Homo sapiens: one gene and its partners. The protein of the gene in region 1 interacts with the protein of each later gene in a pairwise test. Each region holds a gene or a part of one and is shown in the gene's direction. Other genes may lie near its edges.

Region 1 (7,023 bases):
AAAGTAAGTGCCCTGACCCTGAACTTACACATGAGCGTCTGACATAATATTTGACAATTTTTTATGCTGTTACTTGTGTAAAGATATTCACAGCAAAAAGTTTGATTTTGTTTAGGTTACCAGAGGTTAGGCTGGAAATAATTAAATATAACTGTACTCATTATAAAAATAGTTAACATCACCAGCAAACATTTGTTAATCTACTAGGTGCAATACCATATGCTCTTGATACTATGCCATCTTACATTTAATTAAGAGTTCTTTACAAATCATACTCTGTGTTTTTCACAGACATTAGAATGGCTTGCATATTTACACATTTAGTTTTTTCAACATCAAAATCAAATGCACAAGTTTCAAACATCACTTTGAGTTCTTGAGAGTATAGTGTGCCAACATTTTAAGTACTTTCTTCTTTTCTTTTCTTTTTGAGACGGGTCCTGTTCTGTCACTCAGGCTGGGGTGCAGTGGCACCATCTCGGCTCAGTAGAACTTCCATCTCCCGGGCTCAAGTGATCCTCTCACTTCAGCCTTCCGAGTAGCTGAGACTATAGGCATATAACACTACGCCTGGCTTTTTTGTTTTTTTCATCCTTTTTTTCATGTGTTAGGTACTTGTCACTATTCTCTTGACTTTTTTTTTTTCTTTTTGAGATGGAGTCTCGCTCTGTTGCCCAGGCTGGAATTCAGTGGTGTGATCTTAGCTCACTGCAACCTCTGTCTCCCGGGTTCAAGCGATTCTCCTGCCTCAGCCTCCCGAGTAGCTGGCACTACAGGCGCACGCCATCATGCCCGGCTAATTTTTGTAATTTTAGTAGAGATGGGGTTTCACCATATTGGCCAGGCTGGTCTTGAACTCCTGACCTCAGGTGATCCACCCGTCTCAGCCTCCCAAAGTGCTGGGGGATTACAGGCGTGAGCCACTGCACCCAGCTCTCTTGACTTATACACATTTAATCTATTCTATTAATTTGTGTTAATTAGATATTGGTCTTCAAATTTTAGTATTCATAAGAGTCACCTGGACAGCTTATTAAAAATACACTTGGGGACCAGGTGTGGTGGCTCACGCCTGTAATCCAAACACTTTGGGAGACTGAGGTGGGTGGATCCCCTGAGGTCAGGAGTTTGAGACCAGCCTGGCCAACGTGGTGAAACCCTGTCTCTACCAACAATACAAAAATTAGTTGGGCGTGGTGGTGCATGCCTGTAATCCCAGCTACTTGGGAGGCTGAGGCAGGAGACTTGCATGAACCCGGGAGGCGGAAGTTGCAATGAGCTGAGACTGTGCCACTGCACTACAGCCTGGGCAACAGAGCCAGACTGCATCTCAAAAAAAAAATGAAATAAAAATAAAAATACAGTTGGGGATAGGCATGGTGGCTCGTGCCTGTAATCCCAGCACTTTGGGAGGCCAAGGTGGGAGGACTGCTTGAGCTCAAGAGTTTTCATCAGCCTGGGCAACATAGGGAGACCCTCTCTCTACTAAAAATAAAAAAATTAGCTGAGTATGGTGGTGCCTGCCCCTAGTCCCAGCTACTCCAGAGGCTGAGATGGGAGGATCGTTTGAGCCCAGGAGGTCAAGGCTGCAGTGAGCTGTGATTGTGCCTCTGCACTCCAGCTTGGGTGACAGGGTGAGACCCTGTCTCAAAAAAACAAAAACCAAACCAAAACAAAACACCAGTTTACAGGGTCCCATCTCCAGTGATTGGGGCACAGACTAGAAATCTGATTATTTATTCATTAGAGTTGAGGTCTTGCTTTGTCGCCAAGGCTGGAGTGTAGTGGCTCAATCACAGCTCACTGCTGCCTCGAATTCCTGAGCTCAAGCAGTCCTCCCAAGTAGCTGTCCCCTAGGCTGGAGTGCACCTGGGGGTACAGTCATGAGATACCATGTCTGGCTGATTTTTAAATGTTTTGCAGAGACAGGGTCTCCCTATGTTGACCAGGCTGTTCTGGAACTCCTGGGCTCAAACAGTTCTTCCCCCTTGGCCTCCCAAAGTGCCGGGATTATAGGTGTGAGCCACTGTGCCCAGCCCTGATTTTTATTTTTTTTTAATTTTAATTTTGTCTTATTATTTATGTTTTTGGAGGCGACATCTCACTCTTGTCACCCAAGCTAGAGTGCAGTGGCGTGATTGTAGCTCATTGCAGCCTCAAACTCCTGGGCTCAAGTGATCTTCCTGCTGCAGCCTCCTGACTGGCTAGGACTACAGGGTCACACCACCACACCTGGCCAGTTTTTCTACTTTTTGTAGAGACTAGATCTTGCTGTGTTGCTCAGGCTGATCTCTAACTCCCGACCTTAAGAGATCCTCCCACCTTGGCCTCCCAAATTGCTGTAATTACACATGTCAGCCGCGGTTCCCAGGCCTATTTCTCCTTTTAATAAGACCTTGGATCTTAGTGTGCCACCCTCCAGCAATAATCTTTGCCAACTGGTTCTAAGAGTCAATCAGGCCAGGCATGGTGGTGCACACCTGTAATCCCAGCACTTTGGGAGGCTGAGGCAGGCAGATCACCTTGAGGTCAGGAGTTCAAGACCAGCCTGGCCAACATGGTAAAACCCTGTCTCTACTGAAAATACAAAAATTAGCTGGGCATGATGGTGCACACCTGTAATCTCAGCTACTCGGGAGGCTGAGGCAAGAGAATGACTTAAACCTGGGAGGCGGAGGTTGCAGTGAGCCAAGATCGAGCCACTGCACTCCAGCCTAGGGGACAAAAGCGAGACTGTCTCAAAAAAAAAAAATGTCAATCAGTCTGACGTTCTACATCTTTATTAGGGAAAATACTCTCTTTGACAAGCAATTTGTTTTATAAAATATCTTCTCTGACACATTTGTTTTACCCTAGTTTATTTTCTGTTGCATCTTATGATGGTTTCATCTTCAAATCTATTAATTTGTATTTTATAAAGAGTCATCTTAATTAGATTTATTTAATCCTTATTAGTGGTCCTTTTATTATTCTTTTTTTCTTATATTTTTATTGTGGCACAAACTTTATACTAAAAGGAAAAGGAGATTCATTGTGAATACATGATAAGTGAAGGAGCCAGTCACAAAAGACCACATACATATGATTCCATTTCTATGACATTTCTAGAATGGGCAGATCTGTAGAGAAAATAAATTAGTGGTTGACTAGAACTATGGAGGAGGAGGGAATGGAGAGGGACTACTAGTGGGAATGGAGTTTCTTTTCAGGGTGTTAAAAATGTTCTAAAATTGTTTGTGATGATGGTTATGATATCAAACTAGGTTCGTCCTGCCCACGTGCAGCAAGCCAATCACTATGATGATGGGTTTTGCAAAAGAGACAAGATTTTATTCATAGGGCTGCTGAATGAGGAGACAGGAGAGCAAATCCCAAATCTGGCACCCTGAAAATAGGGCTTGGCAGTATTTGTGGGGTAGGACGCAGGGTGGTCTAAAGCATGGGGAAAGGTGATTGGCAGGTAGGAAAGGTGAGGTAATCAAGGTTTCTGCACAAGCGTAATTGAGCTACATTGCTCTTCATAGGCCATGTGCAGAAAATGGCAGTGTTAACATGATCTAAGTGTGGAGTTTTTGTCCCTCTGACATGAAAAGGTCACTTTTTGGGCACTCATGCAGGTCCAGTTGAGGGATTGGTGGTCTCAACTGGGTAAGAGCTGTCCCCTAATTCCTGAAAAACAACTTTAAGCATCTGTTAATATAGTGACCCACAGTCAGAGATGTCATCTTTTTTTTCTTTCCTTTTTTTTTCTTTTGAGGCAGGGTCATGCTATGTTGCCCAGGCTGTTCACAGATGTTAACTTTTATTTATTTATTATTTATTATTATTATTATTTTTTGAGATGGAGTTTTCGATCTTGTTGCCCAGGCTGGAGTGCAATGGCATGGTCTCAGCTCACTGCAACTGCCTCCCAGCTTCAAGCGATTCTCCTGCCTCAGCCTCCCAAGTAGCTGGGATTACAGGCACATACCACCACACCCAGCTAATTTTTGTATTTTTAGTAGAGACGGGGTTTCACCATGTTAGCCAGGCTGGTCTCAAACTCCTGACCTCAGGTGATCCACCTGCCTTGGCCTCCCAAAGTGCTGGGATTACAGATGTGAGCCACCATGCCTGGCCAACTTCTTTGTTTGTTTGTTTGAGATGGGGTCTCACTCTGTTGCCCAGGCTGGAGTGCAGTGGCATGTTCATGGCTCACTGCAGCTTCGAACTCCCGGGGATCAAGCAGTCCTGCCTCAGCCTCCTGAGTAGCTGGGACTACAGGCATGTGCCACCATGCCCTACTCAGAGTTTTTCATAAATGCCGTTTTAGTGTTAAATAAGTTTCCTTCTATTCCTAGTTTGCTGAATATGTGTGTATGTGTGTGTTTATTGTGGTAAAATACACATAACATAAAATTCTATCATTTTAACCCTTTAAAAATGTCCAGATCAGTGTAATTAAGTACATTTACGTTGTTGTACAACTGTCACCATGATCTGTCTTCAGAACTTTTTCATCCCAAAGTGAAATGCTGTACCTATTAAACACTAACTTCCCATCTCCCCCCACTCCAGCCTCTGGCAACCACCATTCTACTTTCTGTGTCTATGAATTTGACTACTCTAAAAACCTCATATACGTGGGATCATATATTTGTCCTTTTGTGACTGACTTATTCACTTAGCATAATGTCTTTGAACTTTTGCTGAGTGTTTTTTTTTTTAATCTTAAAAGGGTATTGAATTTTTTCAAATATCTTTTCTGTGTCTGTTGAGATGATAATGTGGTGTATCACATTGATTGATTTCCTTATGTTGAACCACTCTTGCATTCCTGGGATAAATGTTGGTCATGGTATATAATCTTTTTAATGTACTGTTGGATCCAGTTTGCAGTTTGCTGTTATTTTCTTGAGGATTTTTATTTCTATATTCATATGGGATATTGGTTTATAGTTTTCTTATCATGTCTTTTTTTTAAGAGACCAAGTCTCCCTATGTTGCCCAGGCTGGTCTTGAACTCCTGGACTCAAGGGATCTTCCTGCCTCAGCCTCCCAAAGTGCTAGGATTACAGGTGTGAGCCACCATGCCCAGCCTGAATTTTATCGTATCTTTTTCTGGCTTTGGTGTCAGGGTGATGTTGGCCTCATAGAACGTTAGGAAGTGTTCCATTCTTTTCTGTTTTTTGAAGGAGTTCGAGTAGGATTGGTGTTAATTCTTTGAATATTTGGTAGAATTTGCCAATGCAGCCATGTGATACTGGACTTTTCTTTGTTGGGAGGTTTTTGTTTATCAATTCAATCTCTTATTATAGGTTTGTTGAGACTTTTAATTTTTTCTGAGTCAGTTTTGGTACTTTAATGTTTCTAAAAATTTGTCTCTTTTATCTAAATTATCTAATATGCTGGTTTAGTCATTCACAGTATTCTCTTATAATCCTTTCATTTATATAAAATTAGTAGTAATATCCCCAGCTTCATTTCTGATTTTATTTATTTTCATTTCATCTTCTTTCTTTTTCTCCCAGTCAGTCTGACAAGAGTTTGTTAATTACTTTTTTTTTTTTTTTTTCGAGATGGAGTCTTGCTGTGTCACCCAGGCTGGAGTGCAGTGGCATGATCTCAGCTCACTGCAACCTCCACCTCCCAGGTTCAAGCAATTCTCCTGCCTCAGCCTCTCCAGTAGCTGGGATTACAGGTGCCTGCCACCGTGCCCAGCTAATTTTTGTATTTTTAGTAGAGACAGGGTTTTACCATGTTGACCAGGCTGGTCTTGAACTCCTGACCTTGTGATCTGCCCGCCTCGGCCTCCCAAAGTGCTGGGATTACAGGCGTGAGCCACCATACCCGGCCAAGAGTTTGTAAATTCTGTTGATCTTTTTAAATAACAAATTTTTGGTTTCGTTGATTCTACTATTTTTATTCTTCTTGGTTTTTGTGGTTGTTGTTGTTTGTTTGTTTTTGAGAAATGGGGCCGTGCTCTGTTACCCAGGCTGGAATGATGCAGTGGTGTGATCATATGCACTGCAACCTCAAACTGCTGGGCTCAAGTGATCCTCCTACCTCAGCCTCCTGAGTAACTGAGACTACAGGCATGCATCACCAAACCCAGCTAATTTTTTTTTTAATTTCATAGAGATGGGGTCTCACTGTCTTGCCCAGGCCTTGAACTCCTGGCCTCAAGCGATCCTCCTGCCTCAGCCTCCCAAAGCGCTGGGATTACAGGTGTGAGGTACTGCACCTGCCTTATTTTTATTCTTTATTTCACTTATCTCTGCTCTAAACATTGTTATTCCCTCCCTTTGGTTGGGTCCAGTTTGTGCTTCTTTTTCTAGTTCCTTAAGGTCTGAAGTTAGAGTATTGACTTAAGGTCTTTCTTTTTTTTATCTCTGTTTTTATTTTTATTTTTTGTAGAGATGGGGGTTTCACTATGGTGCCCAGGCTTGTCTTGAGCTCATGGGCTCAAGCGATTCTCCCACCTCAGCTTCCCAAAGTGTTGGGATTAAAGGCATGAGCCACCATACCCTGCCTTCTTTCTAATATTTTATTATTGTTATTATTATTTATTTATTTATTTTTTGAGACAGAGTCTCGCTCTGTTGCCTGGGCTGGAGTACAGTGGCGTGATCTTGGCTCACTGCAACCTCTGCCTCCCAAGTTCAAGCGATTCTCCTGCCTCAGCCTCCCAAGTAGCTGGGATTACAGACATACACCACCACACCCAGCTAATTTTTGTATTTTTAGTAGAGACAGGGTTTTGCCACATTGGTCAGGCTGGTCTTGAACTCCCAACTTCAGGTGATCTGTCCGCCTTGGCCTCCCAAAGTGCTGGGATTATAGGCGTGAGCCACCGCGCCCGGCCTTATTACTATTATTTTTTAAGACAGGGTCTTGCTCTGTTGCCCAGGCTGGGGTGCAGTGGCACCATCACAGCTTTCACTTTCCAGATTCAGGCAATCCTCCCACCTCAGTCTCCCAAGTAGCTGGGACCATAGGCTCGTGCCACCATGCCTAGCTAATTTTTGTATTTTTTGAAGAGAC
Region 2 (6,883 bases), on another chromosome or scaffold:
TGGGGTCACTGTGGTTTAGATTTGCATTTCCCTGATGATTAGTTGAGCATTTTTTTCATATATTTCTTGGCCATTTGTATGTCTTTGAGAAATGTCTATTCAGATCCTTTGCCCACTTTTAAATGGGATTACTTGGGGTTTTTGATGTTGTGGATCATAAACATTTAATAAAATTATTCATATATTTGGGTTTAAAGCTTAATTTTATTTTGTGCTTTTATTTGTCCCATTTATATTTCTTTCTTGATTTAAAAAAAATTGAAAATTTTGTGTTGATTATTCAACTTTTTCCCCTCCCTACTATTGATAGCTTGGAAATTTACATCCTGTTACTATTATTTTAATAGTCACATACTATTAATTACTAGATATATAATTACCTTATCAGAATATAAATTTAATAAATACCTAAATAACTTCCAATACGATACCAGGCCCTTAGAAAAGTTGAAATCCATTTAAGCCCCTCCTGACGTTTTTTCTGATTGTATGATACATTAAGTTTATTTTTTAAAAAGAAGAATAGATGTTTTTCTGATTTCTTCTTCTGCCAATGTTCTCTTACATTGCCCACGTACTACCACTTCCTTTGCTCTTCATTCCTTCCTGTATTTATTTCTTTTAAGGTCATGTTCCTCCTGAAGTACATACTTCAGAATTTCCATTAGCTTGGTTTGCTGGTTACAAACTCTCTGTTTTGTTTGTCTAAAAATAACTATTTTATCCTCTTTTTGAAAACTTTTTTGAGTGATGCTGCCCTTAGAATGCCAGGTTAATATGTGCAGCATCTCCCATAAGCACCCCCATCCAGTCTTTGATATCCCTGAGCCGAAGCCCGAGTTTGAAGTGACCATATGCTCTCAGAAACCTTGGTGAAATAACAATGCCTATCTGAATAGGTTTGATGAGACACTTACATGAGATAAGGATGGAAAATTCCTGGCACAGAGGTTGAAGGCAACTAAAGGGAGTTATTCTTTCAACTGAAGGCATTGGCTCTGAATCTTAAGGATTTTAAGGGTTTTTTGTGTGTGTGTTTTTGTTTTGTTTTGTTTTGCAATTGGAAAATGAAATGTGGCCTCCTTAGAACCACCAGAGCTAGAATTCTTGTAATTGGAAGCCCCCTTACCCCCAACCCCTCTCCTATAATATGAGGCCAGAGATAAGGTATGCTCTGTATCCAACTGGAGCCAGTTTAGCAAATGCTCCTCCAAGCCCTATATGAAGAGACCTCCGCTTGGTTCTGATGATGCAACCCAGGCAACTTTACACAATCAAAATTTTTTGCACAGCTCTGAGACACAGTCTTTGTCCTTTCTGATGCCACCAGGTCCAACTGCAGAACACCTGATTTGGCGATGAAGCCAATTTAAATGTAGAACACGATTCTGCTTAGAGGCCAGGGTCAGATGTCATAGTATTGGGGAGCAGAAGCAAGAGTCTGAAGAAAACCCCTAAGCTATTGCCAGCATCACCCCCGACTGTGTGAAGTAAGCAACCTGCCTTCTCTGCACCTCCAAAATCCTCCACCCACCACCACCACCATTCCAGTGTTCCATCCACAAGAGAAAGGTCATGCCCCTGAGATGAAGGTGCTTTGTCTTTAAATGTAGATTGTTTACTCCAAGGAATTCTAGGTATTGGAGTTGGAAATAAGAAGGCAGAAAGAAGCAGGTAAAGTACCTTGGCAGGCTGAAGCTGAAATTAACAGCAGCTGAAAAGCATCAGACTGTTCACTCACTTCCAAACATCAGGAGTCAAGAACAAGCAACTCCTTTGCACTTGGGCAGTCCAAGTGCACTTGGTCTTGACCCCCCAAAGTTCCCACAGGAGTCTCTTAACCACACTTTACATGAGAGAAGGAAGGCTTGCTTTCCCAGAACCAGAAGTAAGGGAAAATGGAGTGCTGCAGGCTGAATTATGTTCCCCCAAATTCATTGTAATCCTAACCCTCAGTACCTTAGAGTGTGACTGTATTTAAAGATAGGGCCTTTAAAGAGGTTATTAAGGTAAAAATGAGGCCCTTAGGGTGGGCCCCAATCTGACTTGTGTCCTTATAAGAAGAGGAAATTTGGACACACTGAGAGAACCCAGAGGCACATATGCACAGAGAGGATGGCCAAGCAAGAGGGCAGCCATGTGCAAGCCAAGGAGAGAAGCCTCAGGAGAAACCAACCTTGCTGGCACCTTGAAGTTGGACTTCCCAACCTTCAGAACTATGAGCAATACATTTCTGTTGTTTATAAACCACCCAGTCTATGGTATTTTGCCATAGCACCCCAAACAGACTAAAACAGCACTGTAACAAATTATCACAAACTTGGCTTAAAACAAGAGAAGTTTAATTTCTCACAGTTCTAGAAGCCAGAAGCTTAACATCTGTTTCTCTGGGCTGAATTCAAGGTGTCAGTAGGACTGTGCTTTATTCCTTGCCTCTTCCAGTTTCTGGTGGCTGCTAGCATTCCTCTGCTTATGGCCACATCACTAATCTCTGGTCATTGCCTTCTCTTCTTGGTGCACCAACTCTCCCTCTTTTATAAGGGCACTTGTGGTTTAGATTTCAGCCTGCCTGGAAAATTAAGTCAAAAAGCCTTAACTTAATCACACCTGCAAAGACCATTTTACTTTATAAGGTAACATTTACAGGTTTCAGGGATTAGGACTTGATACATTTGGGTGGCCATTATTTAGCTTCATACAGAGTCCGAAATCTTTGCATACAATTTCAGGAAGATCATGGATTCCAGGTAGGCACATCTGCTCTGGAGTTGCATTTCACCACAGATACCTGTGGACAGATATTGGAGACAGGCTCATTTACTTATTCACAAACCTTGCTACAACTCAGAACCAACCGCAGCGCCGGTTAAAAATACTAAATACAAAACCACATCACAACCGCTAGTCCTAGTAAATCTGAATCCACCAGAGTTGGGGCCCAGAGCCTACATTTCTTTTCTTTTCCTTTTTTTTTTTTTTTTTTTTTTTTTTTTTTTTTTTTTGAGAGGGAGTCTTGTTCCCTTGCCAGGCTGAAGTGCAGCGGTGCGATCTTGGTTCACTGCAACCTCCGCCTCCCAGGTTGGAGAGATTCTCTAGCCTCAGCCTCCCAAGTAGCTGGGATTACAGGCACGCGCCATCATGCCCAGCTGATTTTTTTTTTTTTTTTTGTCTTTTTAGTAGAGACGGGGTTTCAACATGTTGGCCAGGATGGTCTCGATCTCTTGACCTCGTGAGCCGCCCGCCTCGGCCTCCCAAAGTGCTGGGATTTCAGGCGTGAGCCACCATTCCCGGCCAGAAGACTGCATTTCTAACAAGCTCCCCCAAATGACTCTGATGTCTTGCCCCCATACTTGAATGGGTATTGGTTGAGAGCCTTGTTCTCCAGCTCTCCTCTCTGTTAAATGGACATACTGCTACTTCTTTCACAGTAAAAGAGGAGATGTGTGTGAAAGCCTGTTTCCGCAATGCACGTGCTAATGCTCTTCCCGCCCCTTCCCCTCTTCCCCGTCTTTTCCCTATACCAAGGTGAAGAACTTTTATTATTCACTTGATTTTGGACCCACTTCGTGTTTAATGCACCTGGCCTAAGATGCAGAGTTGAGCCCAGGGAGAAGGGACGGGTTGGGGGAGGAAGAAAGAGTCGCAAATTCCCAGGCAGATTGGCTCCATCGGTCTAATCAAGCTGCACTTGACGCTCCGCGGGCCTGCTGCGCCCCCGCCCCCTCAGGCGAAAACTCGCCTCTGCCCAAGGCTGTGCGGGGCGTCCGCCCCCGCACTTCGCTGATTGGCCGCACTAGCCCGCTCGTCACGCTCTTTTGTCTCAGCTGGCAGAGGATAAAAGCCGCCGCGGCTGCCTTAGGAACGGCGCTGCCTCGTCTCTGCTACCCCTGGTTGGGCGGCCCTGCGAAGCAGCTCCTTCGGGCAGCCCCGGGTCGCTTAGCGGCCAAGGAGGCTTCAGTTCTTTGCCGCCTGCAAGGCGGAGACCAGAAGGCGGAATCCACAGCTGGCGACGCGGGAGCATCTGCTGTCCACCAGCGGAGCACAGGTAAAGAATGGGGGTGTGATTGCCCGGCGGGGAGAGGGGTGGGGGAAGACCCACCAGTACTGGGCGGCTCCCAGCTTGGAGAATCGGTGACTGTGAGGCAGGGGTAGGAGTACTCTCGTGGCCCGGCTGCGCTGAGGGAGGAGGTGGGGTTCACCTGGATACTGCGGGCTAGGTAGGATTTGCCTGGATTTGGGGGTGGGAGGAGAGGCGAGGAGTAGCGGGGGGAGGAATCTCGAGCTGTTTGCTTCGAACATCCTTTGCATCTCCTCATCTCTTTCTGGGAGGAATATGTGGGTGGGTGTGTCCAACTCCTATTCCCTTTCTCCGTGGCAGGCCATCAAAGCCGCATCTGAACTTGAATTCTGTGCAGCTGATTGCAGAGCTGGTAGGCCGACGGCTTCCCGGGGGAAATGTAATGCTGGAGGGTGGGGGGCTGGTCTCTGGCTTATAGTCAGGAGGGGGCAGAGAGAATTTTTCGCCTGGCAACAGCGGAGGTGGTGGGTAGCAGGATGACGGGTGAAGCTGCTTCTAACCCTTCCCTTCTCTGGCCTTCTCCGCTGTGGCGCAATCTTGAAACCTCAAGGACCCGGATCTGCGACCCCCTGTGGACAGAGGTTGACCGTACCCCGGAGAGGAGCTTTCTCACGGAGGGCACTGGTTGCAGAGGCTGGAAGTGAAATAAAGACGCGCTCTTGTTTCAGAGTTCGTGTAAGAATCTGAGAAATAACAAGGGGGACGGGCGTGGGGGGCACTTTGAGAAGGGGGTGTGGTTGAGACCAGAGACCATGAGGTTAATGAGATCTTATTTTATTTCCACAAATCTGCGATCATTGTACTCTATTTGGAGAGCCCAATATCAGCTCCAGACACTGCTACACCTAGAATTTGAAGCAACAGTTACCGTCCCTCTTGGAGGACTGGTGGGAGGGATGGATGTGGCTGCAAAAAGCACCTTGCTAGCACGCAGGCATCGGGTAGCTCTGGGAGGTTGTAAGTGTCAATCTCCTACAGGATTATTTTTAGGGTAGTGGGCAAATATAAAATGTACTGCAGGATATTCAGGTAGGAAGAGAATGCAGCTGCAGCCCGCTCCCTTATTAACCAGCCCCCCTTTCTTTTTTACAGCCCCTGCTGAGATAGGAAGGCAGAGCCACCTCCTCTCCTCTCCCACCTGCAGATTAAGCTTTTCTAAAAAGCCTAGGCATCTTCTTATATTCAGATACCCTATCGTCGTCAGTCATGGCTAGCATCATTGCACGTGTCGGTAACAGCCGGCGGCTGAATGCACCCTTGCCGCCTTGGGCCCATTCCATGCTGAGGTCCCTGGGGAGAAGTCTCGGTCCTATAATGGCCAGCATGGCAGACAGAAACATGAAGTTGTTCTCGGGGAGGGTGGTGCCAGCCCAAGGGGAAGAAACCTTTGAAAACTGGCTGACCCAAGTCAATGGCGTCCTGCCAGATTGGAATATGTCTGAGGAGGAAAAGCTCAAGCGCTTGATGAAAACCCTTAGGGGCCCTGCCCGCGAGGTCATGCGTGTGCTTCAGGCGACCAACCCTAACCTAAGTGTGGCAGATTTCTTGCGAGCCATGAAATTGGTGTTTGGGGAGTCTGAAAGCAGTGTGACTGCCCATGGTAAATTTTTTAACACCCTACAAGCTCAAGGGGAGAAAGCCTCCCTTTATGTGATCCGTTTAGAGGTGCAGCTCCAGAACGCTATTCAGGCAGGCATTATAGCTGAGAAAGATGCAAACCGGACTCGCTTGCAGCAGCTCCTTTTAGGCGGTGAGCTGAGTAGGGACCTCCGACTCAGACTTAAGGATTTTCTCAGGATGTATGCAAATGAGCAGGAGCGGCTTCCCAACTTTCTGGAGTTAATCAGAATGGTAAGGGAGGAAGAGGATTGGGATGATGCTTTTATTAAACGGAAGCGTCCAAAAAGGTCTGAGTCAATGGTGGAGAGGGCAGTCAGCCCTGTGGCATTTCAGGGCTCCCCACCGATAGTGATCGGCAGTGCTGACTGCAATGTGATAGAGATAGATGATACCCTCGACGACTCCGATGAGGATGTGATCCTGGTGGAGTCTCAGGACCCTCCACTTCCATCCTGGGGTGCCCCTCCCCTCAGAGACAGGGCCAGACCTCAGGATGAAGTGCTGGTCATTGATTCCCCCCACAATTCCAGGGCTCAGTTTCCTTCCACCAGTGGTGGTTCTGGCTATAAGAATAACGGTCCTGGGGAGATGCGTAGAGCCAGGAAGCGAAAACACACAATCCGCTGTTCGTATTGTGGTGAGGAAGGCCACTCAAAAGAAACCTGTGACAACGAGAGTGACAAGGCCCAGGTTTTTGAGAATTTGATCATCACTCTCCAGGAGCTGACCCATACTGAGATGGAGAGGTCAAGAGTGGCCCCTGGCGAATACAATGACTTCTCTGAGCCACTGTAAGGGACCACCCCCAGGTTTCAGTGAACCCTTACCTATATTCAGCATCCAGTAGTGGGAAAACTGGGGTGGGGGTGGGGGTGGGACTTCTAACTGCATGAATTAATCCACAAAGCGGCTATCTTTTGGGGTGGAGTAGAAAGGGTCTTGGATACCAGCACATTGGAGGGAGATAGCCTGACCTCTGTCCTTGCTCCTTCTCCCTGCAGCCTACGGGTCTGTTTTCTGTGTGTGCCCATTTCCTTGACAGCTTTATTCTTTGTGAAAGTGGTATAATTTATTGTTAAATATTTGAACAATAAAAAAGGTACAAAAAGTGAAGTACAAATTACCCAAATCTCTCCACCCTTATATAATCATTGTCAACCCTTTGATGAGTGATATTTCCCTATA
Region 3 (7,811 bases), on another chromosome or scaffold:
CGCCTCGGCCTCCCAAAATGCTGGGATTACAGGCGTGAGCCACAGCCCCCAGCCTCTGGGCTAATTTCTTGTTGGTTTGGGGGAAAGGGGCTTAGGTGGCTCAGACATTAATTTTTTCCCTTGAATTTAGAAGTTAAGAGTATAAAATGCATTTTAGTATGTCTATAATATTGGATGCTTTGTAAATATTTTTACTATGGTATAGAAATAGAAAATAGTCTATTAAACATAGTTATAAATTATGATCATCCTATAGATCGGGGCTCAGACCTTCACCTTTTGCATCTGACCTTCCATCAGGAGACCCTTGAAGACTTCTCCTGCATTGCCCTATCACCTGAAACCCAGCTCATTGATCGTCATCATTCATTAATTCCACAACATTGACAGAGCCCTTGGTCTGTACTAGAGGCTTAAGGCCCTGTCCTCATGGAGCACTCAGAACGTTCTCTCTAGTCTCTTCCTGATTCTTTCTAGGCAGGTTTACTACCTTTTACTTGCTCAGTTCATTTCTGTGTTCTCAAGCTGGCTTTCCCTCTGGGAATATTCCTCCATGGAAGATTGCCAGAAAGCTTCCAATGATCTCTTCTTGCTCTTGAGATTTCTTCTTCCCTACAGAGTGGCACGTGTCTCTTTCTGTCTGAATCTGAACTCTTCTGACTTTTCTATATTTTTTCCTATTGTGTAATCTATCACTCTAGCCATCTAATCTTTTTCTTTTTTTTAGATAGAGGTGGGGTCTCACTCTGTTGCCCAGGCTAGTCTAGAACTCCTAGGCTCAAGTGATCCTCCTGCCTTAACCTCCCAAAGTGCTGGGATTACAGGCGTGAGGCACCGTGCCCAGTCTTGATCTATTTTTTTATCGGACATTTTTTGAATGCCCATATACTAGCAAATTTCAAGGTGTGGAGGAGCTTCTCCTTGCCATTTAAAAGTTTTCATTTATTTGACATAATCATTTTATAAAATTATGTATTTGCACAACTTATGTCCAGAGGCCTTCTTTATGCTTCAATTACTTCAATTACTTAAAACGTATTTATTGAACTTTTTCTGAATATAAAAAGAAATACATGATTTGTTTTACAAAATTTGGAAAAGCATACATAAAGAAATAATAACTATGTGATCTCACAGCCCAAGGCTAGTTATTATTAACTTTTTGGGGCACATCCTTCCAGTTTTTTTTCTTTTTAAGAGATGGGGTCTCATCATGTCGCCCAGGCTAGTCTTGAACTCTTGTGTTCAAGTGATCCTCCCACCTTGGCCTCCTGAGTACTTCCAGTGTTTTTGATGCATACTTAGGAATAAATCCAGATCATATCCATTTTTTCACTTACTATAGTGTGAAAATGTTATCTTCTCTGGTATTCTTTGAAGACATGATTTTAAATAATGGCATGACATTCCATTTTCAGGCTAAGCTGCAGTTTGTTTAAATAACTCCCCATTGCCAGTAAAAGCCTTTTTTTTAAAGGTTGGTGAGTGCTGTCTTATCAAAAACCACATGAAGACAGGAATCAAACATTTAATTGTCCTTCTAAGGAAGTATCCACAACAAAAATATAACTAAAGTAAGTTGATCATGTATATGCTGTAATCCTCTAGTTATCATTAAAAATAAACATAGCCAATCTGCATTAAATATAACATGAGTTAGGGTGGACGTGGTGGCTCATGCCTGTAACCCTAGCACTTTAAGAGGCCAAGGCAGGTGTACTGCCTGAGCTCAGGAGTTTGAGACCACCCTGGGCAACATGGTGAAACCCCATCTCTACTAAAATACAAAAAATTAGCCGGGCATTGTGATAGGCATCTGCAGTCCCAGCTACTCAGGAGGCTGAGGCATGAGACTTCCTTGAATCTGGGAAGCAGAGGTTGCAGTGAGCCAAGATTGCACCACTGCACTCCAGCCTGGGTGACAATTAAAAAAAAAAAAAGTACTATGAATTGGCATAAGGATAACTTAAAAACTTGAAGCTCTGGAGAAGGTTGGGAGAAAGATAACCTACCATCATCAAACCTTTTTGGTTGGGCTTTGTTTACCATTTTTGAGAGGAACTGAGCTCTGTACAGTCTCAGAATTGGTAGGAGCTTTAAAAATCACTCAGTGACTCTAACCTCTTTCTCGTAGATGAGGAAATTGAATCAAGTTACCTGCTGAGACTAATACTCAGGTCTCTTAACTTCCTTCCTGTCCCATGTTCTTTTCACCGCAATCTGCTGACTAAGCTTACTCTTAAAAATACAGAAAGAGCATACATTTATCAACATGTCATTACAGAAACTCTGTTCCTCTTATAGTGCATGTATTTAGGTATAAAAATCGAATGGCAAGATCCTGGGTATGTATCCAAGGGAAAGGAAAGCCTATGTCCACAGAAAGACTTGTACATGAATGTTCTTAGCAGCATTATTCGTAACAGCCAAAAAGTGAAAACAATGCAAATGTCCATCAATAGTTTAATGGATAAACAAGTGTGGTACACTCATTCAGTGTAATACTACTTAAAAATAAAAACAAACTATTGATAATGCAACAATGTGGACGAATCTCTCAAAAAAATAATGTCGAGTGAAAGAAGCCAGACAAGGCCTGGCACGGTGGCTCAGGCCTGTAATCCCAGCACTTTGGGAGGCCAAGGTGGGCGGATCACCTGAGGTCAGGAGATTGAGACCAGCCTGGCCAACATGGTGAAACCCCATCTCTACTAAAAATACAAAGTTAGCTGGATGTAGTGGCACGTGCCTGTAATTCCAGCTACTCAGGAGGTTGAGGCAGGAGAATCATTTGAACCCGGGAGGCGGAGGCTGCAGTGAGCCGAGATGGCACTCCAGCCTGGGCAAAACAGAGTAAGACTCTGTCTCAAAAACAAAAAACAAAAAACAAAACCAAAGCCAGACAAGAGTACAAATTGACTGTATGGCCTGCATTTATCTAAAATTCTATGAAATGGAAAGCTACCCATATGACAGAAAGATCTGTGGTTGGAGAGAATGGAAGTAGTGTGGAGGAGGAACCACAAAGAGGAAACTTTGGAGGGTGATAGATACATTCACCATCTTCCTTGTAGAAGTGGTTTCAGGGAGGTATACACATCAAAACTTATCAAATTGTACACTTTATTTTTATTTTTTTGAGACAGAGTCTAGGAGTCTCGCTCTGTCGCCCAGGCTGGAGTGCAACGTTGCGATCTAGGCTTACCGCAACTTCTGCCTCCCGGGTTCAAGCGATTCTCCTGCCTCAGCCTCCCGAGTAGCTGGGACTTCAGGCGCGTGCCGCTACACCCGGCTAATTTTTGTATTTTAAGTAGAGATGGGGTTTCACCATGTTGGCCAGGCTGGTCTCAAACTCCTGACCTCGTGATCCGCCCACCTCGGCCTCCCAAAGTGCTGGGGTTACAGGCGTGAGCCACCGCACCTGGCCAATAATTGTACACTTTAAATATGTGCAGTTTATTTTGTCAATTATACCTCAATAAAGTTGTTTGTGAGATGTCCCTCTTAAGTTTGAAAAGCAGACAAGACTAAAAACTCACTGAAGTATCTAAAGCACAAGGCAACTACAATTACTTCTGGAGATAACTGACAATCAAGGTTCTTTTCTAGTATGATAGTTTATCTGAACAAAACATTACTATGAGAAATGCGAAGTCATAAAAATAAAAAATAGAAACGACATTTTTGTCCCCCTGGTAATCATGCCATTTCCTCTTGTCTGTGCAGTAGCGCTATATCATAATCTTTTTAGTGCTCTATTCAATTTGGTTTTCTAAAGAGAGAAATAACCTTGTTGTACTTTTCCTGAACTAGAGTGCTCTTTTATGTACAAGAAGCCCAATCCCTGGTGTGAGTATACTTGTGTGGGTCTGTAGAAAGCTACACTCTATCTATAAATTTTAGCAAATGCTGTTATTTATTTTGGGATTTTTGTAGTCGGGACTCAGCGGAGACACTAGAAACAAATTATAAGTTTCTAGAAACCATACCTTCTGCAAGATGAACGCTGTATAGTTTTCCTAAATATGTGATTCAGTAATCACATTTTTCATTTAGATTTTCCACTTACTGTTTTAAAACAAAGAATTGCTATACCATACAGTCTACAAAACTGGTAATTTTCAATTTCCTCATTAAAGATTCTTCACTCTTTTTTAGAAAACACGAGAAAGTTTTATTTCCCAACTCTCCCACTACCCATGTTTATTTTCATAGCTCTTTTATTCGGTCATTATTCCCATTCTGCAGACGGGGAGGCGCACATACGTTTTTCTGCACAGTACAGAGGGGCAAGAAAGAAGGAACTCTCAACTTTTCAGTTCCATTTTGAGAAACGATCACATTGAACTCCCGAGAAGCGGCAGCTGAGCGAGAGCAGCAGCATTTCTCCCCGTGTTGGGTGTGGGTCAGGAGAGAGGCGCGCTTCCGCGGGAGACAGGGGGAGTCAGGTGGCAGCGGCGCTGGAGCCCGAGCGGCGCGGCGGGGGCGCGCCTCCCTCCGGCCGGCGCGGGGACGCTGCCCCCGCGCACGCGAGTCCGGCAACCCCGGGCTCCCGCGCCGCGCGGCGATCCGCGGGTGCGGCAGGGGCGCCCCGGCGCTCTAGTCTCTTCCCTCGCGCGCTCGCTCCTTCCCCATGCCCCCACCCCCCAGCCCCTGGCAGGTCCCTCCCCCAAGCCTGCTCCCGCGGCCGCCGCTGCCGCCGCCGCCGCCGCCGCCGCTACCGGAGGCGCAGGAGCCTCGCGATAGTGTTTGCACAGGCGGCGCGTGACGCCGCCGCCGCCTGTAACTGATGCAGAGGTTACCCCACCGCCTCAGCCGCCACCCACAGCCCGCCGCCGCCGCCTCCCGGGCGACGCCGGGGGCCGACGCACTGCAGAGGTGCCGGCAGGTTCCGCCCGCGGAAGTGTCCTCGGCCGGCGCAGCCCGCGCTCCGCCCGCGCTCCGACCCCGGCCCGGCTGGCACCCCCTCGACGCCTCCGCCGCCGCGCTCCTTTCCTCCTCCTCTCCTCTGGCGCGCCCGCTCGCTCCCTCGCTTCTCCCCCTTTCCCTCCTCCCTGTCCCCTCTCCTTCCCTCACCTCTTTCCTCCCCACCTCCCCTCTTCTCGGTTTCCTCCCCCATCCCCTTGACTCTCCCCTCCCAGCCCTCGCTCTCTCGCTCGCCCTCAGCGCGGCCCCCGCCATGACGGAGGCGGGTGCCGGTGCCGTTGCCGCCGCTGCCGTCGCAGGGGGGGAGTCGGGTTCCCAGAAAGTAGCTTGATGAGTGTCCAAAGTAGCAGTGGAAGTTTGGAGGGGCCGCCATCTTGGTCCCAGCTCTCCACGTCTCCAACCCCGGGCTCGGCGGCGGCGGCCAGGTCCCTGCTGAATCACACGCCGCCATCCGGGAGGCCCAGGGAAGGTAAGCACCGCCGCGCCCGCGCCCGCTCGCGGGCCTCCTCTCCCGCGCCGCGGACCCCCGCGCCCCCCCCCCGCCCCCCCCGCCCCGGGGCTTCTCCGCCAGACCCTGGGGTGGGGGATGGTGGCGAGGTGGACGCGAGGCCGCCCGGCTCCCCGGCTCTGGGGAGGTAGTGCCCTGGCTGTGGATGGTGGTTCGCGGGTGGCGGAGGAGACGGACGAGGGGGTGCGCGCTGGTGGGGACGGGGCGAGGCGCATAGACTCGCCTGGGGTTCCTGGGAGCCAGTCCTGCGAGGGTGGGAAGCCTCCCCCCAGACGCGAGCCCCTTTCTGCTCCATTTGCCAGTACACTCAGTACTCTTAACCTCCTGGCCTCCGGTCTCTGGTGGGTTTTCCCTCCCGCTGGAGCCTTCGTCCTCGAGCCCCCTCCCCTTCTCCCGCGCACTCCTCCCATAGAGGCGGTCCCCACTTTGCGAGCTTTGCTGCCCGGGACCTGGAGGATGCCCCTCGCTTGCTGGGTTTCTCCTTTGGGGAGAGACGCTGAAATTATCTGGGCAGACTTTGATCCCCTGTGTGGCCCCCTAGAGCAATTTAAACGACAGACTGACTCGTGGGCAGGCTTTTAAAACCGCCCCTCCAGATGGTTGCAACTTTCTCTCCTTCGCCGTTGCTTCCTGCGTGTTTGTGCGTTATATTCTCTGCTGCAAGTAGGCTACTGTTCTTCTGTGACAGGGTCGTGGGTTTTGTGGGAAATATCTGCGTAAAGGTTATTGCAAACACGCACCAAATCGGTTACAATTGTTTTCTAAGTTTTCTGGCTTCTTGCAAGCAAGTGGGCTGCCACCAGATGTAGCAGTTACACAGCTTGTAAGGCACCGGCGTGCTTTTGACTAAAATTTCAACTTGCTGTATCTAAGTATACAACATAAAATGAAATTTGGGAGAAAACACATTTATGGGGAATGAATAAATGTGCATGGAATGTCTTTTAACGCTCTTTAGTCTGGAAAAAGCTTAGCGGTATTCATCCGCAATTGGTAGACGGGCTGTTCACTCCTAGTTGTCGCACACGAGGAGATAGGCACATTTTCAAATGTCTGGAAGTTCAACCGTCTAGTGAATGTTTTAAAGAAATCAAGAGCTTCGATTTATGTAGGAATCGGTGCGAGTACTTTATTTTGAAAATATCTGTCGATATTTGCTAGTCAGAGCCTTGACAAGTGTTAATCAAGTGTTTTGTGCCCTGAATCCAGTGGTTCAGGCATAGCATTCTTTGTCATTTTGTTCCTGTGAGCATGTGTGAAAGTGACAATAGGCTTAAAGATTGGCATGAATATGCTCTAGAAAATTCACGGAAAGCTTTGATTTATGGGATCCATTAAACATGCGGAATACATTGACAGACGTTTCCCCCTTTCATCTTATCCCAACGCTGAGCTTTCATTGTTAGAATATAGAAGTTTATTTATTAAATGACTAGAAATTTAGTATATCTGGTGATTCTTTTGCACTTGAAAATTTTTAAATGAACGGTTTAAAATGTATTTCATAGAGAAGTTGATGCTTGCTTTTAGCATGCTTTTACTTTTGTTTGTAGTTTCATTAAGATGTTTAATGTTAGTGTTATGAGTTTAAAAAGACCATTTTATTGTTTCTTGTTTAAGGCTATATCATCATTCATTCATTCATTCATTCATTCGTTTCTCGAATATTTATTGAGCCATTACTGTGAGCCAGGCCGTGAACTGGATACTGAGGACATAGTGTTGAATTATCTCTTGATATCTGTTATCAGTATTGGGAATTTGGGAGACAAAACATCTAGATTGTGAGTTTCTGAGGTTACTTCAACTTAAAAACATTCTGCACTTTTCCTGATGTTTGAAAATTTGGAGGGGTTGGAATCATTTAGCTTGAACTTCCAAATAACCATAATTTTTTCCGGCAGTTTAGATTACAGTGGGTTTTTATGTAACCTAAAGTAGTGAGTTTCTGTTAATTCATGAAATCATAGGACAGGCTTTTGTGAAAGTTACACTTCACACCGAGTACCTGTATAGCTACAGGGGGATATTTCTTTTTGACCAACCAGCATGCAAGTTGAAACTATTAATCCTCTCTAGGGTTATATTCATTTTGAAGCTTGGCGATGTGTTCTCAGATTTCACTAACGCTAACAGGAATATGAAGCCCTGAGTGTCAAAATGGAGATGATTTCTATTGAGCGAAATCTCAGTTTTTATTTTAAGTGTTTAGCACCTTTTCCAGGTATACATGTTAGTACATTATATAAATTGATGAAGTTTTAGAAAGCTTTTTAACTGCTAGTTACTGCTAGTAAGAACCGTTAATATTAATGGAACTTGAATGTATTGTATGTATCACGGTGAAAACTAACTTTGTTTCTTGAAAAATTGAGTC
Region 4 (7,218 bases), on another chromosome or scaffold:
AGGGGAGAACAGTGAAGGGGCTCAATCACAGTGGGGACAGAGAGGCAAGAGATCAGCCTGTGAATGGCAGGAGCAGCAAGACCATGCAGGGCTAGACATCCATGAAAACAAGTTTGGCTTTTATTCAGAGAGCAATGCGGGGGGCACTGAAGAGTTCTAAGTAGAGGAGCAACAGAACAGATATGCAAGATTAGGGGCAGGGAGACCAGCGAGGAAGTGAGAGGTGGCAGTGGTCTGGACTGGGGTTGGCCTGCAGATGGAGAAGGTGGTCTCACTGGTGAGACTAGTGACAAGACTTGTTTGAGGGGAGGTTGGTAGAAGAAGGGAGGAGAGGATGACTCCGAGGGGGTGCATGGTAATGCCTTCCATCAAGACAGGGACAGAAAACAATCTGGTGCAAGGAGTGGGCGTACGAGATGGTGAGTTCAGTTTTGGACCTGTAGAGTTTAAGGTGTCTGTCTGTGAGCCAGTGAAATGAAACTGTCTCATAGGTGGCTGGATACATAGATCTTGAACTAGAGAAGAGTCCAGGCTGGAAATACAGCCTTGGAAGATGTGATTGGCTCAGTAATGGCTCCCAAAGATATCCAGGTCCTAATCCATGGAACCTGTAAATGGCACTTATATAGCAAAAGAGATTTTGCAGGTGTGATTAAATTAAGGATTTTGAGATGGGGAGATTATCCTGGATTATCTGGATAGGCCCTAAATGTAATCACAAATGTCCTTATAAGAGGGAGGCTGAGCACTTTGAGAGGTCCAGGTGGGTGGACCACTTGAGGTCAGGAGTTGGAGACCAGTCTGGCCAACATGATGAAACCCTGTCTGTACTAAAAATACAAAAAATAAAAATATAAGTAAATAAAAAATAAAAATAAAAAATTAGCTGGGTGTGGTGGCATGGGCCTGTAATTCTAGCTACTCAGGAGGCTGAGGCACAAAAATCCCTTGAACCTGTGAAGCAGAGGTTGCAGTGAGCTGAGATCACACCACTGCACTCCAGCCTGGGCGACAGAGAGGCATCACGTCTCAAAAAAAAAAAAAAAAAAAAGAGAGAGGTTGAACTAGCTGGGCGTGGTGTCATGCACCTGCAGTCCCAGCTACTTGGGAGGCTGAGGTGGGAGGATCGCAAAAGCCCAGGAGGTTGAGACTTCAGGGAGCTGTGATCACTCCACTGCTTGGAGTGACAGAATGAGACCCTGCCTCAAAAAAAAAAAAAAAAAAAAAAAAAAAGAGGGGGCCGGGCGCCGTGGCTCATGCCTGTAATCCCAGAACTTTCGGAGGCCGACGCGGGTGGATCTCCTAAGGTCAGGAGTTCGAGGACCAACATTGAGAAACCCCATCTCTACTAAACATACAAAATTAGCCGGGCATAGTGGCGCATGCCTGTAATCCCAGCTACTCTGGAGGCTGAGGCAGGAGAATCGCTGGAACCCGGGAGGCGGAGGTTGTGGTGAGCTGAGATCGCACCATTGCACTTCAGCCTGGGCAACAAGAGTGAAACTCCGTCTCAAAAAAAACAAAAAAAAAACAAAAAGAAGAGGGGTGGGGAGGCTGGGAGAAATTTGATCACAGGGAAGAAGGCAAGTAAGATGCTTGAAGATGCTGCTGCCCTTGAAGGTGGAAGGTGCCATAAGCCAAAGAATGCAAAAACTACAGCTCTCGAAGCTGCAAAAGCAAGAAAACAGATGCTCCCTTATAGCATCCAGAGGAAGTACAGCCCCACTGATACCTTGATTTTAGCCCAGTGAAAGTTATTGCAGACTTGTGACCTCCAGACATGTAAAAGAATAAATGTGGCCAGGCGCAGTGGCTCATGCCTGTAATCCCAGCACTCTGGGAGGCCGAGGTGGGCGGATCACCTGAGGTCAGAAGTTCAAGACCAGCCTGGCCAACACGGCGAAACCCCGTCTCTACTAAAAAATACAAAAATTAGCTGGGTGTGGTGGCACGTGCCTGTAATCCCAGCTACTCGGGAGGCTGAGGGAAGTTATTGGTGATTTGTTATAGTAGCAACAGGAAACTAGTACAGAAGACATCAACATTACCGTTGGGATTGGATGAAGAAATCCAGGAAGGCTGATAGAGTGAGACATGCAGAGGATTTAGCAGAGAGCTCCCAACAACTCCAGCATTTAAGATCCCTGCGGAGGAAGTGCATCTCAGAAAGGGCTCTTGGAACAGCCAGAGGGAGAGGGCCACCAAAGAAAATAGTTCTCCTAGGATTCAGGGGCAAGGGTGTTTCAAGGAGAAGGGAGTGGTTAACATTGTCAGATGCTCCTAAAAGTCAAGCAAGAAAAGTGCCTAAGCTCAGGAGTTTGAGGCTGCCTTGAGCTATGATCATTGCACTGCACTTCAGCCTGGGCGACAGAGTGAGACCTTGTCTCTAAAAATAAATAACAAGAAAAGTGCCTATTTGGTTTCAACAGGAGAAGTTGACCTTGAAAGAACTCTTGGAATAGTTGTCGTCTCTATCAGATGGTACACATTTTTTTCAACTTTTAATTCTTTTTTCTTTCTTTTCTTTTTCTTTTTCTTTTTTTTTTTTTTTGAGACAGGGTCTCACTTTGTCACCCAGGCTGGAGTGCAATGGCAGGATCTCAGCTCACTGCAAACTTGACCTCCCAGGTTTAAGCCATTTTCCTGCCTCAGCCCACCAAGTAGCTGGGACTACAGGCAAGAGCCACCACGCCGGGCTAATTTTTGTATATTTTGTAGAGACAAGGTTTCGCCATGTTGCTCAGGTTGGCCTTGAACTCCTGAACAATCCGCTCACCTCGGCTTCCCAAAGTGCTAAGATTACAGGCATGAGCCATCGCTCCCGTCAACTTTTAATTCTATTACACAGTAGTATATGGTCATTGTATAAAAGTTAGGATATACAGATTCACCAAAAGAAAAGAAAGTTACTCATAATGTCTTCAGCTAGTGCATATCTGTCTTCAGCTAGTGCATAAAATGTTGCTGGTGCAACATTTTAGTGCATATCTTTCCGGATTTTTTCTTTTCTTTTCTTTTCTGTGCGAGAAAAGAAAAGATTCTCTCAATCGCCGCCCTGTGGGGTAAAATACCATGAGGCCATTTTAAGAGGGGGAAATGCAGGCTTAGAGAAGCAAGCAATTTATCCAAAGTAACCAAGATTGGAATCTAGGTTCCTCTGACTCCAAAACCAATGTTCCTTGCTGCGGTGCTTTCCTAGCTTTTTACTTGGAGAACTTTTCCCCAGAGGACCTCAGGCTTCAGAACTAAACCTAAGTGGATTTCTATCCTGAACCCCATCCCTCATCCGCCCCAAAGGATGGTGAGCCAGATTAAGGGGTGAAAGGCAGGAGCAGGAAGAGTAAAGGCGTGGGTGCGATCTATGGTCGGGTAAGAGGGAACTAGTACACGCACGTGTTCGGTTCTTCGCAACATCACAATCAAGCGGGCATCAGGCTTCCCATTGTACAGATAAGGAAACTGAGGTTCCAGAAGAGAAGTAATTTTCCCCAAGTCACACAGCTAGCCAGGGGCCCCGATCCACACATCCCCGGGGCGGCGGGGGTTATCAGGAGGGAGTCTCCGGATGCCTGCAAAGCTGAGGCTGAGAGCTGGGCGTACGCAGCAAAGGAGGGGTGGGGCGATTCGGGGCGGAGCGAGGCAAGGAGATTGGGCGGGACTGGGGAGAGAGGAGGGAAGGGTGGCGGGGGGGTGGTAGGGCAGAAGGGGCGAGGTCATGGGGAACTCGGAACGAATCAGCAGAGGAGGGAGGAAGAGGGAGGGGGCTCTAAGACTCGACGCGGAGATGGAACAGCCTGGGCCGTGCAAGGGAGGAGGATTTGGAAGACCCAGAGCGGGATGAAACGGGACAGAGCCCTGAAGGGGCAGGGATGGGGGAAGGCGGAGGAGTTTCTACTGAGGCCAGGGGTGGGGCATCGCGCCAGGGGGCGGGGTCTGAGGCGGTGAGGGGCTGGGGGCGTGGCCTAGGGGGCCGGCGAGGGGCCGGGGAAGCGGCCTGACGCGGTGCGGGGCCGGGACCGGGGCCGGAGCCTGGACCTTGGCGGTGGAGGAAGGCGAGGAGCCGGGGGCGGGGCCGTCCCAGCTGAGGAGCGGAGAGCGGCTGGAGGGTCGGGGGCGGGGCGTGCGGAGGGGCGGGGCGTGTGGAGGCCGGGACGGCGCCCCCGGCCGGCGGTGAGGCCGGCTCAGCGCGGAGCAGCTCAGTGCCCCCCGCGCCCCGCTCCGGCAGCTCCACGCTCGCGCCCGCCATGCCGGAGCAGTTCAGCGTCGCCGAGTTCCTGGCCGTCACCGCGGAGGACCTCAGCTCCCCGGCTGGGGCCGCCGCCTTCGCCGCCAAGATGCCCCGGTACCGAGGGGCGGCGCTGGCGCGGGAGGAGGTGAGGGGGCCGAGGCGGGAGGGGTCGGGGGTCGGCGCCGGGCCTGGCCTTGACCTCCACAGGCGTGTCGCACCCGAGCTGCGATGGCCCTTCACCGCGCCCCGAAACCTGCCCCCTCCCTAGGTCTGGGAGGACCGAGCGCATCTCCAACAGCTGCGTCCTCACCGTCGAGGCGGGGGAAGGCCCGAGGGACCGTTTTGGGGGGCCTCGAGGTCTCTTCGATGACAAACTCCACAGGTCGGGGGACGTACCCCAAGTGCCCCGCGTGACCGCCTCATCACATATGTGTTTGCCTAGCGCCTTCCAGCCTCAGTTTGCGTTTTCATCTTCGGAGCCCCACAAGTGTGCCCCCCGAGTCACTCCCCTTCTGAGAGGCAGGCTTCCCGCCTCAGTCCTGAACTTTCTTCCCCCCGGCTGCAGAGAGGCCCCCTCCCGCTTGCGGCTGGTTCGGAGATTTGGCCCGCGTTTGTGGAATGAATGCGGATGGGAAGGCGCCAGGAGCCGGGGTTCACCTTGGCCGGGCTGTTGGCAAGTTTATCGTCTCCTCTCCCCTCCCCTCTCCTCTTTGTCTTTCCCAGCAAAGCGTCCCAGGCCTTTTCTTTCGGTCTTGCAGGCTGCCCCACCCCATTCCCATGCTCTTCGGAGTTCCTTCCATTCCTCTTCTCTGAACCTGCTGCAGCTTTCCGCAGCTCCTCTGCAAAGAATATTCTAGGACAGACACCCCGTGGCCTTGGTCCAACGGAGAATAATGTGTTTTTGCAGCTCCCCATCCAAAGGATGCCCTCAATTTGGGTGGCATTTTGGACCTCAGCAACGGCTCTAGCCTTCCACCCTTCACCTTAAGTGTACTAGGCACCCACTGCGTGGCAGATACAAAGCTCAGTAGTTCATAACACCCTGCGCCAGTGTCAGGAAATCTGTCCTCTTCTCTCTTGTCAGGGTGACCCTCCATCTCGGAGTCTGTTTGTATCACTTTGTAAGGGTGATAGAGGATTGTGGAAGGAGCATCGACTTTGGGGAAGGCAGACCTTTTTTCTTTCCTTTTTTTTTTTTGAGACGGAGTCTCGCTGTGTCGCCCAGGCTGGAGTGCAGTGACGCGATCTTGGCTCAATGCAAACTCCGCCTCCCAGGTTCACACCATTCTCCTGCCTCAGCCTCCCGAGTAGCTGGGACTACAGGCTCCCGCCACTACGCCTGGCTAATTTTTTTTTTGTATTTTTAGTAGAGACGGGGTTTCACCGTGTTAGCCAGGATGGTCTCGATCTCCTGACCTCATGATCCGCCCGTCTCGGCCTCCCAAAGTGCTGGGATTACAGGCGTGAGCCACCGCGCCGGCCAAGGCAGACCTTTTTTCAAACGCTGGCTCTGCAGTTTGCCATTTGGGTGAACGTGGGCATGTGACCTGTCCTGTCATCTGTGGAATGGGGGTAATAATGTGTACCTCACATGAGACAATGCATATAAAGCATGCATCTTTTTTTTGGAGACAGAGTCTTGCTCTGTCTCCCAGGCTGGAGTACAGTGGTGCGATCTCAGCTGACTGCAATCTCTGCCTCCCGGGTTCAAGCAATTCTCATTCCTCAGCCTCCCAAGCAGCTGGAATTACAGGCATGCTCCACCACACCCGGCTAATATTTGTATTTTTAGTAGAGACAGGGTTTCACCATGTTGGTCAGGCTGTTCTTGAACTCCTGAGCTCAGGCAGTCTATCCGCCTTGGCCTCTCAAAGTACTAGGATTATAGGTGTGAGCCGCTGCACTGGCCCATGCCTCTTGATAAATGGAATGATTATCGTCAGATTAATCGGCAGATCTCTTTAGACAGTGATTGGGTCTCTTTTGTCTTCATTTGTCTCACAGAGCCTCACCTTGTCTCATTTGTCTCACGGAGCCTAGCCTACTACTTTGCACATAGTAGGGGTACATGTTTTATTAAAATAAGAAGCAGCCGGTCAGATTTGGCTTCCTTCCTTGGGCAGAGTCCACTGCCTGTGGATGTGGGTTATATTTTACTGTGGGGCTCACAGGGAAACACTGCTGTCCAGCCCATCCTTTGGAGAGCTTCCTGAGATTTGTCTTCATAGCCTCACATTTCATGACCCAGAATAGCTCAGTGCCATCCACATTCTTAGGGATTTCATGGTTCATCCTCCTCCCCAGGTTGTTCATTAGAATCTTAGAGCAGGAGAAGGGGCTCCAATATGAACCTTATCCATGGACAGAAATGCCCATTTATGCCCATACATCTGGCCTTGCCTGGCTGTGTAAGTGTAAGCACTGTGTGTTGGGGGAGGGACCCTTAGAATGGGTCTGGAGGCCACAGCAGGCTCTGTTCAGGGCTCAGCTTTGCCCCAGTTCAGGCAAGACAAAACCCATCCTCCTTTGCCTTCAGATTTTTGGTTTGGTGCACGTAGAGGTTCATTGTTACAACAGAAAGGCTTGCGGCACCCAAACACAGCTTTTCTCTTCAGCATCTCAGGGCCCAAAAAGTTAGAGTCTGAACTTTGGATTAGACTTCCCTGAGGTTTCCTGTTTGGTTTTGCATTTGCATTTATATTTTGCGATTATATTGTGTTTACATATAGTTTGATGCTGCAATTTTTTCCCCCAGTTCTGGGCTTGACTAACCCACCCCCAGGCTTGTAGCTCTATTTGACTGAATCAAAATGCAACTGATTCTTAAGTCAAGTCTTCCAGTTCTGACTGGTTTCCTGGGAGTAACTAGGGACCCTGTCCTGGGACTCGCAGCCCTTTTGTACAGTCCTGCTGGGAAGGACCCTGGGCAGATCACAGGAAACTAGAATGTCAGGGCTGAGGGACCCTTTTAAGATAGAGACCAGCTAGAA

The links.
Region 2: the proteins of TFCP2 (region 1) and ZCCHC12 interact in binary tests that used the Homo sapiens proteins (3 or more experiments, as listed by UniProt).
Region 3: the proteins of TFCP2 (region 1) and TLK1 interact in binary tests that used the Homo sapiens proteins (3 or more experiments, as listed by UniProt).
Region 4: the proteins of TFCP2 (region 1) and ASAP3 interact in binary tests that used the Homo sapiens proteins (3 or more experiments, as listed by UniProt).

Annotation. Positions count from the first base shown.
Region 1 is NC_000012.12:51,163,129-51,170,151, reverse strand, and holds part of TFCP2 (alpha-globin transcription factor CP2), read left to right. Parts: intron 1-7,023.
Region 2 is NC_000023.11:118,819,961-118,826,843, forward strand, and holds the start of ZCCHC12 (zinc finger CCHC domain-containing protein 12), read left to right. Parts: upstream 1-3,863; 5' UTR 3,864-4,045; intron 4,046-4,378; 5' UTR 4,379-4,430; intron 4,431-4,628; 5' UTR 4,629-4,753; intron 4,754-5,170; 5' UTR 5,171-5,284; coding exon 5,285-6,493; 3' UTR 6,494-6,883. UniProt on the Homo sapiens protein: Transcriptional coactivator in the bone morphogenetic protein (BMP)-signaling pathway. It positively modulates BMP signaling by interacting with SMAD1 and associating with CBP in the transcription complex.
Region 3 is NC_000002.12:171,157,874-171,165,684, reverse strand, and holds the start of TLK1 (serine/threonine-protein kinase tousled-like 1), read left to right. Parts: upstream 1-4,791; 5' UTR 4,792-5,256; coding exon 5,257-5,395; intron 5,396-7,811. UniProt on the Homo sapiens protein: Rapidly and transiently inhibited by phosphorylation following the generation of DNA double-stranded breaks during S-phase. This is cell cycle checkpoint and ATM-pathway dependent and appears to regulate processes involved in chromatin assembly.
Region 4 is NC_000001.11:23,481,160-23,488,377, reverse strand, and holds the start of ASAP3 (arf-GAP with SH3 domain, ANK repeat and PH domain-containing protein 3), read left to right. Parts: upstream 1-4,198; 5' UTR 4,199-4,244; coding exon 4,245-4,373; intron 4,374-7,218. UniProt on the Homo sapiens protein: Promotes cell proliferation.